Linked DNA regions of Homo sapiens. The protein of the gene in region 1 purifies or fractionates together with the protein of each later gene. This does not show direct contact. Each region holds a gene or a part of one and is shown on either strand. Other genes may lie near its edges. The genes, in order: ARL3, ARPC1A and ARPC2.

The links.
Region 2: the proteins of ARL3 (region 1) and ARPC1A purify together in Homo sapiens (affinity purification with mass spectrometry; one large-scale study listed by BioGRID and IntAct). This does not show direct contact.
Region 3: the proteins of ARL3 (region 1) and ARPC2 purify together in Homo sapiens (affinity purification with mass spectrometry; one large-scale study listed by BioGRID and IntAct). This does not show direct contact.

The regions. Positions count from the first base shown.
Region 1 is NC_000010.11:102,700,772-102,704,424, reverse strand, and holds part of ARL3 (ADP-ribosylation factor-like protein 3), read left to right. Parts: intron 1-3,653. UniProt on the Homo sapiens protein: Small GTP-binding protein which cycles between an inactive GDP-bound and an active GTP-bound form, and the rate of cycling is regulated by guanine nucleotide exchange factors (GEF) and GTPase-activating proteins (GAP).
Region 2 is NC_000007.14:99,328,809-99,332,461, forward strand, and holds part of ARPC1A (actin-related protein 2/3 complex subunit 1A), read left to right. Parts: intron 1-3,653. UniProt on the Homo sapiens protein: Probably functions as a component of the Arp2/3 complex which is involved in regulation of actin polymerization and together with an activating nucleation-promoting factor (NPF) mediates the formation of branched actin networks.
Region 3 is NC_000002.12:218,241,116-218,244,768, forward strand, and holds part of ARPC2 (actin-related protein 2/3 complex subunit 2), read left to right. Parts: intron 1-3,653. UniProt on the Homo sapiens protein: Actin-binding component of the Arp2/3 complex, a multiprotein complex that mediates actin polymerization upon stimulation by nucleation-promoting factor (NPF).

The DNA.
Region 1 (3,653 bases):
TCAATGATCCACCCACCCCAGCCTCCCAAAGTGCTGGGATTACAGGTGTGAGCCACCACACCCAGCCTATTCTTTTTTAAAAAATAGCTTTATCTTCTCTGATTATGAAAGTAGTGCATGTAGAAAACACAGAGAAAGTATAAAGGAGAAAACTCTGAGAAAAACCATGGTTAATATTTTACCGTGTACTTTTCAGACTTAATAAATACAAATATGTATCAATTTTTAAAAGAAAAAAAAATTACCTGCCTTTTTTTTTTTTTTTTTTTTTTTGGAGACAGAGTCTCGTTCTGTTTCCCAGGCTGGAATGCAGCAGTGCAATCTCAGCTCACTGCAACCTGCGCCTCCTGGGTTCAAGTGATTCTCCTGCCTCAGCCTCCCAAGTAGCTGGGACTACAGGTGCACGCCACCACGCCTGGCTAATTTGTTGTATTTTAGTAGAGACAGGGTTTCACCGTTGTTGCCCAGGCTGGTCTCGAACTCCTGAGCTCAGGCAGTCCACCTGCCTCGGCCTCCCAAAGTGCTAGGATTACAGGCGTGAACCACCTTGCCCGGCCAATTACCTGCCTTTTTAAATCCAGTCTCATCAACCTTCCTCTTTCCTGAAAAGGGCAAGCAAGCAAAGCATAAAGGATAAGGGAATGATAGTGCTCACAGCGTGGAGGTTTAAAGATGAGTCCTGGGCCGGGCGTGGTGGCTCATGCCCATAATCCCAGCACTTTGGGAGGCCGAGGTGGGCGGATCACAAGGTCAGGAGATCGAGACCATCCTGGCTAACATGGTGAAACCCCGTCTCTACTAAAAATACAAAAAATTGGCTGGGCGTGGCAGTGGGCACCTGTAGTCCCAGCTACTTGGGAGGCTGAGGCAGGAGAATGGCGTGAACCCAGGAGGTGGAGCTTGCAGTGAGCCGAGATCATGCCACTGCACTCCAGCCTGGGCGACAGAGCGAGACTCCATCACAAAAAAAAAAAAAAAAAAAAAAAAAAAAAAAAAAAAGACAAGTCCTGGGCACCATGGCTCATGCCTGTAATCCCAGCACTTTGGGAGGCCGAGGTGGGTGGATCATGAGGTCAGGACATGGAGACCATCCTGGACAACATGGTGAAATCCTGTCTCTACTAAAAATACAAAAATTAGCTGGATGTGGTGGTGTGCACCTGTTATCCCAGCTACTCAGGAGACTGAGGCAGGAGAATGGCTTGAACTTGGGAGGCGGAGATTACAGTGAGCTGAGATTGTGCCATTGCACTCCAGCCTGGCGACAGAGTGAGACTCCGTCTCAAAAAAAAAAAAAAAAAAAAAAGACAAGACCTGATTGGAAAAACTGTAGTGGGTTTCTTAGAACTCATTCCCTGTAGGAAATCCTAAGAATGCCTGACCTTTGGCTAAGCCAACAGGGAGAGCTTGTTGGTCTTAGTCACTTTAAAGTGTTTGAGCATTAAAGGTTAGAGGTTTTAGCAAAACCAGAGTTATTTTCCATCACTGTACCGTGATAAGACCCTGGTGTCAGGTTTGAATGGCTGTGCTGGTGTGCATGCATACTTCACGGCCCATGAGTCTTACTGATTCACAACTCTTTATGGAAAAGTCATTTCAACTGCTACCAAATGAACAATTTTTACAGCTTCTGAACAAATTTAATGTATAGCCCAAGCAAATTACAGTAATCTAGCCTAGAAGGGCTGAAAACACATATTAGTGTGTCAAGATTTCTGCCAGAAAAAGAAGCACTAGTTTTTGTGTGCATGCGCTTGTGGGGTTTTTTTGTTTTTGTTTTTGTTTTTTTAGTATTAGCAATAAACTGTGTCTCTCAAGAACACTAACGTGAAGACTTCCACACTGCAAACACAGAAATAAACTCAAAGTTAGGAACCCAAAGTTCTCATTCTAACCTTCAGGCTTTGTTTGATGTGTTATAGGTAACTCTGATATTATATTGTGTCAAGGTTTCATATTCTTTAAAAACAAACTTTTATTATGTTTTTTGTTTTATATTAGAAAAAGTAATAAATGCTCATTGTAGTAAATTTAGGAAGTATAAATAAATACAATTGAGAAACTAAAAGTCACCTATAATGCCCAGTCAGACATACCACTGTTCACATTTAGGAATGTATCAAGTTTTTTTCTATGCATATATATGATGGGTATATTTAAAATAAAAAATAAAAATGGCTCATAGAGGATATACTAGCTTGTATCATCTATATCTAGATATAGATTTTTTTTAGAGACGGGGTTTCACTCTGTCGGCCAGGCTGGAGTACAGTGGCACCATCCATAGCTCACTGCAGCCTCAAATTCCTGGGTTCAAGCAATCTTCCCACCTCAGGCTCCTGAGTAGTTAGGACTGCAGGCATGTGCCACCACACCCAGCTAATTTTTTTTTTTTTTTTTTTTTGGTAGAGATGGGGTCTCACTACATTGCCCAGGCTGGCCTTGAACTCCTGGGCTCAAGCAGTCCTCCCGCCTCAGTCTCCCAAAATTGGGATTATGGGTGTGAGCCACTGAACCTGTCTCCTCTTGTTCACTTAATAATAGATCATGAACATCTTTCTATGTTATTATATATGTAAATACTTATGTAATATACATCTCTAAATGTTTTTGCCCATTCATCATTATTATTTCCTCAGAATAAATTCCTAGATTTGTTGGGTCTCATGACTTATAGCTGTTTAAGCCCATTGATACATATGGTCAAATTCCAAGATTCACTGTTACTTGTATTCCAAGATTTACTGTTATTTATTTTCTGCTTTATTCCAGAAAGGATTCAGTATTACTGAGTTTGACATTTAATATCATTGTTGAGTGTGGAATTTTTAAATACACTAAAGTAGTTTTGCCAGTGAGTCACAATGAAACTTTTTTCAATAAGCTTAAGCCATTTCCCTTTAGAATTCTCGAACTTCTAATGTATTCAGTCATTGGCGTGTTAGAGAAGTGAGAGTCAGCAGGATCCCCAGTTATCCTCCAGAGACTGTGTATCCGCAGTGGAAATTGGGTGGCAATATTCCTGTCCTATTGCACTGTGCCTTCTCCTTCTGTGCCAGGCAGCAGTGTTGACAGGCTACCACATGAAACAAATGTTTGTGGAGGCATCCCCAAAGCTATCTAACTCCAGTTATTCTGGATGAAATGTCTCTTCTGTGGTAGCAAGCTGTTGACTGGGTTTTTCAAATCCTGGTTTCCCTATGTAATTTTTGCAAGAAGACTTTAAAAAAAATTCTTGTTCATGCAATACATTCTCTGGGAACCCCAAAGGGCTTGTTAATTTGTTTCTTTCCACACTGACCCCCACCTGGCAATTCTGCCTGTCCCTGATTTGCTCACCTTCCTCAAAGTTTCACCTCAAGTAACTGTCTTAAAAATGAAGACTTCCAGCCCGGTGCAGTGGCTCACACCTGTAATCCCAGCACTTTGGGAGGCTGAGGCGGGCGGATCACCTGAGGTCGGGAGTTCAAGACCAGCCTGACCAACATGGAGAAACCCCATCTCTACTAAAAATACAAAATTAGCCAGGCATGGTGGCGCATGCCTGTAATCCCAGCTACTCGGGAGGCTGAGGCAGGATAATCGCTTGAATCCGGGAGGTGGAGGTTGCGGTGAGCCGAGAGCACAACTCTGCAAAAAAAAAAAAAAAAAAA
Region 2 (3,653 bases), on another chromosome or scaffold:
GGCATAGTGATGCATGCCTGTGGTCCCAGCTACTCAGGAGGCTAAAGTGGGAGGATGGCTTGACCCTGGGAAGCCGAGGTTGCAGTGAACTGAGATCACACCACTGCAGTCCAGCCTGGGTGACAGAGCAAGACCTTGTCTGAGAAAAAAACTCAGAGAGAGAGAAAAGGGATGAGGGGGGAGGGAGGGAGGAAAAGAAAAGGGATGAGGGGCAGGGCGCGGTGGCTCACGCCTGTAATCCCAGCACTTTGGGAGGCCGAGGCAGGCGGATCACGAGGTCAGGATATCGAGACCATCCTGGCTAACACGGTGAAACCCCATCTCTACTAAAAATACAAAAAAATTGGCCGGGTGTGGTGGCGGGCCCCTGTAGTCCCAGCTACTCGGGAGGCTGAGGCAGGAGAATGGCGTGAACCCGGGAGGCAGAGTTTGCAGTGAGCCGAGATCGTGCCACTGTACTCCAGCCTGGGCGACAGAGCGAGACTCCGTCTCAAAAAAAAAAAAAAGAAAATAAAGAAAAGGGATGAGGAGTTCCTGGCATTTTTATTTGTCCCCTTTTCTCCCTCTCTAGCTCTATTAAGACAAAGCTTTTCAGATTTCACTTAAACATTAACCATAGTTTAGAAATTATAATTATCACCCTATGACAGAAGGTACCCTTTCTTGGTACATAATTCAAGCTATTAGGAATTTCTTCTGCATTCACTGGGTTTCATGAATGCAAGTGGTGTTTGCTAGGTGCATTCTAAATTTGACAAACATGAGTGTTGTCTTGGCCTGCAGACTTAAAATAGCCACCTGATTATAAAAGAAGTACAGGTCTTAAGTGTATGTCCAAATATGGAACTTGAATGATATGGCAAAATTAGAAATGCAATTTTAGAAGTAATTACACTGTTGTGTAAATGGCCACCTCTTTTGAAGTCTTTGCTACATTGCTTATAAAACACTGAGTTGAACATGAGAAAGCCTTTTGTCTGCAGCTGTACTTTTCAACTGGACATGAACCATGTACTTTTATGGCACGTAGATATTCACATCAAATTTCTGATTTGCAGACCGATTTTATTTTTAGTTAACAAATAAGCTTATCAAATGTGGCTTTTGAACTAAAGCGCTTTTAATTAAGGAGTTATAACAGCATGTTATTTTGAGTAGCTGTTACTAAAATCTGTTGTGATGGAACAATTTGGAGTGAGCATCTGATATCAGAGATAAAGAGAGAAGCATGCAGTGAGCATCTGGAAGTTCTTGTAAAAAAAAAAAACAAATTAAACATTCTCATTTGAATGCATTTAAAATTTTTTTAAATTGCCAATTCCTAAGCTTTTTCTTTGTTAGTTGTAGTTTGCTTTCTCGACTGTATAAAAGAAAAAAGTAATGACTTAACTATCTTCACTCTTAGAATAGAATATGAAATGCTAGCATTTCTCTGCCAGTTCAAGGTATCAGATGTTTTTTATTTAAAGTTGCACTTACCTTTGGGTTCCCCCCCCCTTTTTGTTTGTTTGTTTGTTTTGTTTTGATACAGAGTCTCACTCTGTCACCTAGGCTGCAGTGCAGTGGCACCATCTTGGCTCACTGCAACCTCCGCCTCCCATGTTCAAGAGATTCTTGTGCCTCAGCCTCCTGAGTAGCTGGAATTACAGGTGCCTGCCACCATGCCCGTCTGATTTTTGTATTTTTAGTAGAGATAGGGTTTCGCCATGTTGGCCAGGCTGGTCTCGAACTCCCGACCTCAGGTGATCCGCCCACCTCGGCCTCCCAAAGTGCTGGGATTACAGGCTTGAGCCACCATGCCTGGCCTGGGTTCCTTTACAATTAGCAGAGGTGCTGCTTCTGCTTTCTGAGACTGATTTCTGCTTTGTCAGCTGAACTTTCATTGTTCACTTTACAACCTTCTAGTGGCCCTTCCATTCATTTCCTGCTTGCATCAGAATTCATATCTCACATTTCAGCCTCCACCCAAGGTTAACATGACACATACTTACGTGTGTTGAAACTTGAGTTTATTGTGAGGGTGCCTCCTGGAAATGATAAAGTTGGGGGTAGAGGAAGGCTGGCTGCTTTTTGAAAAATGTTCCCATTTCAGTTAATGGTTGCTTCTTCAAGTGTATCTAGATTTGGGTACCTATAAAATAGAGAATTTTTAATTTAATGTTTTGCAGATTCCTGCTTTTCATTTAGTTACAATTAAAAGTTTAAAAAGTATTATCACAAACGCCTACATACTCTTTGCCTAGATTCACCAGTTAGCATTTTGCCACATTCACATTCTATATATTTTCTGTCCTGAACTATTGAAAATAAGTTACAGTGGCTGGGCATGGTGACTCATGCCTGTAATCCCAGCACTTTGGGAGGCTGAGGCAGGTGGATCACTTGAGCCCAGTCAGAGCAGCCTGGGCAACATGGTGAAACCCCATCTCTACAAAAATTACCTGGGCTTGGTGGTGCATGCTTGTAGCCACAGCTACTCAGGAGGCTGAGGTGGGAGGATCACTTGAGGCCAGAAGACGGAGGCTGCAGTGAGCATAGATTGCACCACTGCCCTCCAAACCTGGGTGAGAGAGCAAGACCCTATCTCCCCTGCCCCCCACCCAAAAAAAGAAAAGAAGTTACAGAAGACATCATGATACTTCATCCCTGAACACTTCATCATTATCTTTGTCTCCTAAGAGCTAGGACATTCTCCTATCTAATGGCAATACCGTTATCACACCTAAGAAAATGAAAATAATTCCATATGTAATATCTAGTTTAAATTGTAATTTTCCCTGTTATACAAAATACATCTTTTCTGCCCATTTTTTAAAATGTGGATTATGGGCCAGGCACAGTGGCTCACACCTGTAATCTCAGCACTTTGGGAGGCTGAGGAGGGCGGGTCACTTGAGGCCAGGTGTTCAAGACCAGCCTGGCCAACATGGTGAAAGTCCATCTCTACTAAAAATACAAAAATTAGCTGGGCCTGGTGGTGCACACTTGTAATCCCAGCTACTCAGGAGGCTGAGGCAGGAGGATCACCTGAGTCCAGGAAGTGGAGGTTGCAGTGAGCTGAGATGGTGCCACTGTACTCCAGTCTGGGCAACAGAGTGAGACTCTGTCTCAAAAAAAAGAAATTATATTATAATCAACTTTCACTTATCAAATTTGGTTTTCATAGCTCTCTAGAACAGTTCTCATCCTGCCTCCATATTGCCTTTTTGGAATAGTCCAGGCCAGTTCTTCTATAGAATGGCACACACCCTGGCTTTAACTGTTTATTTCCTCCTTGTGTTGCTTGACTAGTTCCTTTATCCTTTATTTCTTGTAAACTGAAAATTAGATCTGAATCTTGATTGGATTTAGAGTAAATATGTTTGGCATAGAGACTTCATTGGTAGGTTGACCATATTCCCAGGTTTCTCCAGGATAGCCCTGTGACCTGTTGTGTTGGCATAATTATTATTTATTTTTGCTCTCAGAAGTGTTCTGGTTTGGATGGTACGTTAAGTCACTATTTATAAGTGACGATGTGTACTTCATGTGGACTGCCATCAGGAGGCCCATCCAGTTAGATTGATCCACTATTTATAACATGGTGATTACGTGGTGATTGCCAGATTTCTTCAACGTAAAGGCATCTTTTTCTCTTTGTAGTTAATAAGCAA
Region 3 (3,653 bases), on another chromosome or scaffold:
CTTCATTCTGTTCCTTGGCAGGGTGGTAAAGATTTTTAAATTCTGAAGCAGAATCTCTTTTGCCAAATAGAGTTGAAAGACAGCTGTGCTTAACAGTAAAGATACTTTGCATAGCCTTCTAAGTGGCTAGGAAAATCTTCAAAAGTGATATTCTCAACTGCTCCATCCCTAGTGGCTTTTGTATTTTGGCTAATTAATCAGAAACTAGTTTGGGAGTCACTATACAGAAAAATTGGAATATTGACACTTCAGCATTTGCTAGTGCTGAACTTGATGAAGGAATATATAAATATACATGTATCTCTTGGGTCCTAAAAGTAAGCCTCTAGAGAGGCATTTCATGTGTTTTTATGCAGAATTGACAGGGGAATTAAATGCAGTAGCTCAGAAATTGGGCTAAATCCAGAGTAACAAAACTAATTTTAAAAGCTCTGAAGTATATATTTAGATTTGGCTGGTTTTTTACCAATCTTATTCCATTTTATTCCAGGAAACAACTTATTTTTATACTTTAAACAGATCTTATCTTGGAGAGTGTACCGGAGATTTGTTCCTTAGGAGAATTTTGTGTATTCTTTTTTGGCATATGATTTAAATGCCTCCTTCAGGGTACCTGTGGTAGGGCACTTACCTAAAAGGAAAGACAAAGCCTCTTTTGCATTTTGGCACTAACAGGATCTCTGGATAGTAACTGGCCTGGTGCAGTGCTAGCTAGACTCAGGAAGTCATCTGCCCTGCCACCCTTTCCAAATTCAGAGGCTTAGGTAATTTGTTGGAAATGACAATCGGAAACTGGACTTTTGCTGGATTTTCCCAAAAAATAAATAGAACTTTTTCCTAGGCCTGGAATTGTAAATTTCTCGGAAAAAGAATGAGGGACACCTGGCACAGAAAGTTGTACCCTGAGAACACTATTTGAAGTTCCTCATGGTCACTAGTCTACTTGTTGCCAGCCTTTGTGGCCTTTCCCTTCCAGCATGCACATCCAGCCTGATCAGAATTCAAGTCTTGCTTTTGTCATTTGGCAAGCAGGCTCTGAGGGATGCTTTCTACCTCTCAGAAAAAGACAGGAAGTGTATTCCTCCACACTAGTGGTATGGGCATATCAGCTGAGTACTGGAGAATGTCTGATAGAAGCCATCATTTCAATGCTTATTCCATGAAAAGCAATAGGACCAGTAATTATGCTTTTGGAGATTAGCTTATGGTGAACTAGAATTCTTTTCATATTCTAAGATTTTAAAGTCAAGTTAGTAACTAAATAACCAGGAAAAGTTAAGTGGAAACCACTGGTTTTTATATGTTCAGGGACAAAGACACAAGCACCTGCCTCTTAGGCAGTTGTAAAGATGTATTTTGAGGGCCCTTTCTGCCTGTTTGCATGTGTGGGTATGTCTGTAGGATATTTTCCTGAACTGGGAACACTGAGTCCAAGTCAGTAATTTTGGTAGACATTGCCAAACTCTTCTCCATCAGGGTAGTGGCATTTTATCATCTACCAGTGATGGAGAGGAGTGCCTGTTTTCCCAGAGTATGTTGTAAACTTGTGGATTTCTCCTGATCTGATAGGTTAAAGGTGGTATCTGTGTCTGCTTATGATGACATAAAAAGATGTTCTGAGGTCAGAACATCTTTTCTTAATGTTATAGACCATTTGATTTTCTTATGAAGTGTCTCTTTATGTCCTTTACCCATTATTCTGTAGGGTCATTGAGCTTCTCAATTTCTTTACATACTAGGGAGAGTAGCCTTTCATCTGTGATTAAGAGTTGAAATATTTTCTCCAGTTTGTCATTGGACCGTGTTTTGTGGGGTTTTTTCCACCATGTGGAAGTTTGTTTTTACATAATCAAATTAATCAGTCTTGCCTTTTATGGCTTCTAGATTTTGAGTTATAGGTAGAAAGCCCTTCCCTACTCGAAGGTTATAAAGAAATTTACCTGTTATTTTCTGAGTATTTTTACAGTTACATATTTTATACATGATTTTTTCTTATTTGTTGAGAGCTCCTCTTGTTGTATGGTATGAAAGAATGATCTTTTTTTCCTAAATGGCTATCCAGTGGTCCCAGTGGCAATTATTTCCTTTTTTACACCCCTGATTTAAGATGCTACTTTTATCATATGCTAAATGCCTTGTATATATTTGGATTTATTCCGAACTTCCTATGATAAATAGTACTTTGGAAGAGAGAAATAATCTGATGCTCAAAAGACATCCTAGCCAGAAGGAGAGTAAAAAGGCAATATTGCTTGATTACGTATAACAAAGATGCCAATGAAGATGGAGGGCTGTTTGGGTGTGTTTGTTTGTTTAAGCTTTATTTAGGAGAGAGAACTGAGGAGAAGCAAAGACATCAGAGAATCTAAAGAATAGTCCCAGTCAGGCACAGTGGCTCACGCCTGTAATCCCAGCACTTTGCGGGGCCTAGGCAGGTGGATCACTAGAGGCCAGTTTGAGACCAGCCTGGCCAACATGGTGAAACCCTGTTTCTACTTTAAAGGCCAAAAATTAGCCGGGAATGATGGCACACGCCTGTAATCTCAGCTACTCGTGAGGCTGACACATGAAAATCACTTGAACCTAGGAGGTGGAGGTTGCAGTGAGCCAAGATCACGCCACTGCACTCCAGCCTGGGTGACAGAGTGAGACCCTGTCTCAAAAAAGAAAGAAAGAATAGGCCCAAGCCAGAAACGTATCGTTGACCGAGCCTTAAATATGTTATTTTCCATATACAAAACTAATGAGTGCTAATAAGTCACCACTGGTTTATAAATACCCCATCTCATTGTGAATACCACATGTACCTGTGAATTAGAGCCTTGGAGACACTTAACAGACACAAGAAAATGCCAACAGTTACGTATCTGTTCTGTTTAATTCCTTAATACCGAAAAGTAAAACCAGTAAAAGTTAAAAAGCTTCTTAACCCCTTTGTAGAATAAAAAATGTTTTCTAGAGAAGGGCGATTTTAGAAGCTTTGCTCTAGAAATTTCCATTTGGGATAATCTTGACTCCTTCCCTTCCTTTTTGGATATTTTTCCTTCGGGGAACAAAATCTGTTCAAAAGGGGACTAATCTAACCCAGTTGATGGTCATTTCTTTTCCTACTTAAAGCTTGGTAGTGTTAGCATGAGAGGCAGTTTGTGAAATAGGTGAGGTCCCAGGCTGGGCATTGGGGCTCCTCAGCCATCATCTTTCTTTTGCCACTAATTGTCGAGAGGGCTTGCTAATCAGTGTTTATTCTTCCTGCCTGCAACTGGAAACAGCCCTTGCCTATTCCTGTACAGTGTGATGATACTAAACCAGCTAGGGTAGAAGCACTTGCTTTCTCTCAGCAAGGCATGTGCTGCATAGCCTCTTTGAAAGACAGAAGAATAAATTACAAAGATAAATTAAGCAGGATCTTTGATTTGAACTCATAACCTGGTAGGGGAGCCAGATACATTAATGAATGGTAAAATATCATAGTAGAGGTTTGTAGAAAAGACATGGCAGCTCCAGCAAGAGAGCAGTACCTGCCTGGGTTTGTTGGAGATGGTATTAGGAGGCAGTATTTGAGCAGCAGTAGAAGGGCACGCAGGCCACATGGCTGTGTAACCATGCCTTCAGAACTCCTAAAACAAGAGACCTTGGAGAGTCCTTGGCAGCAT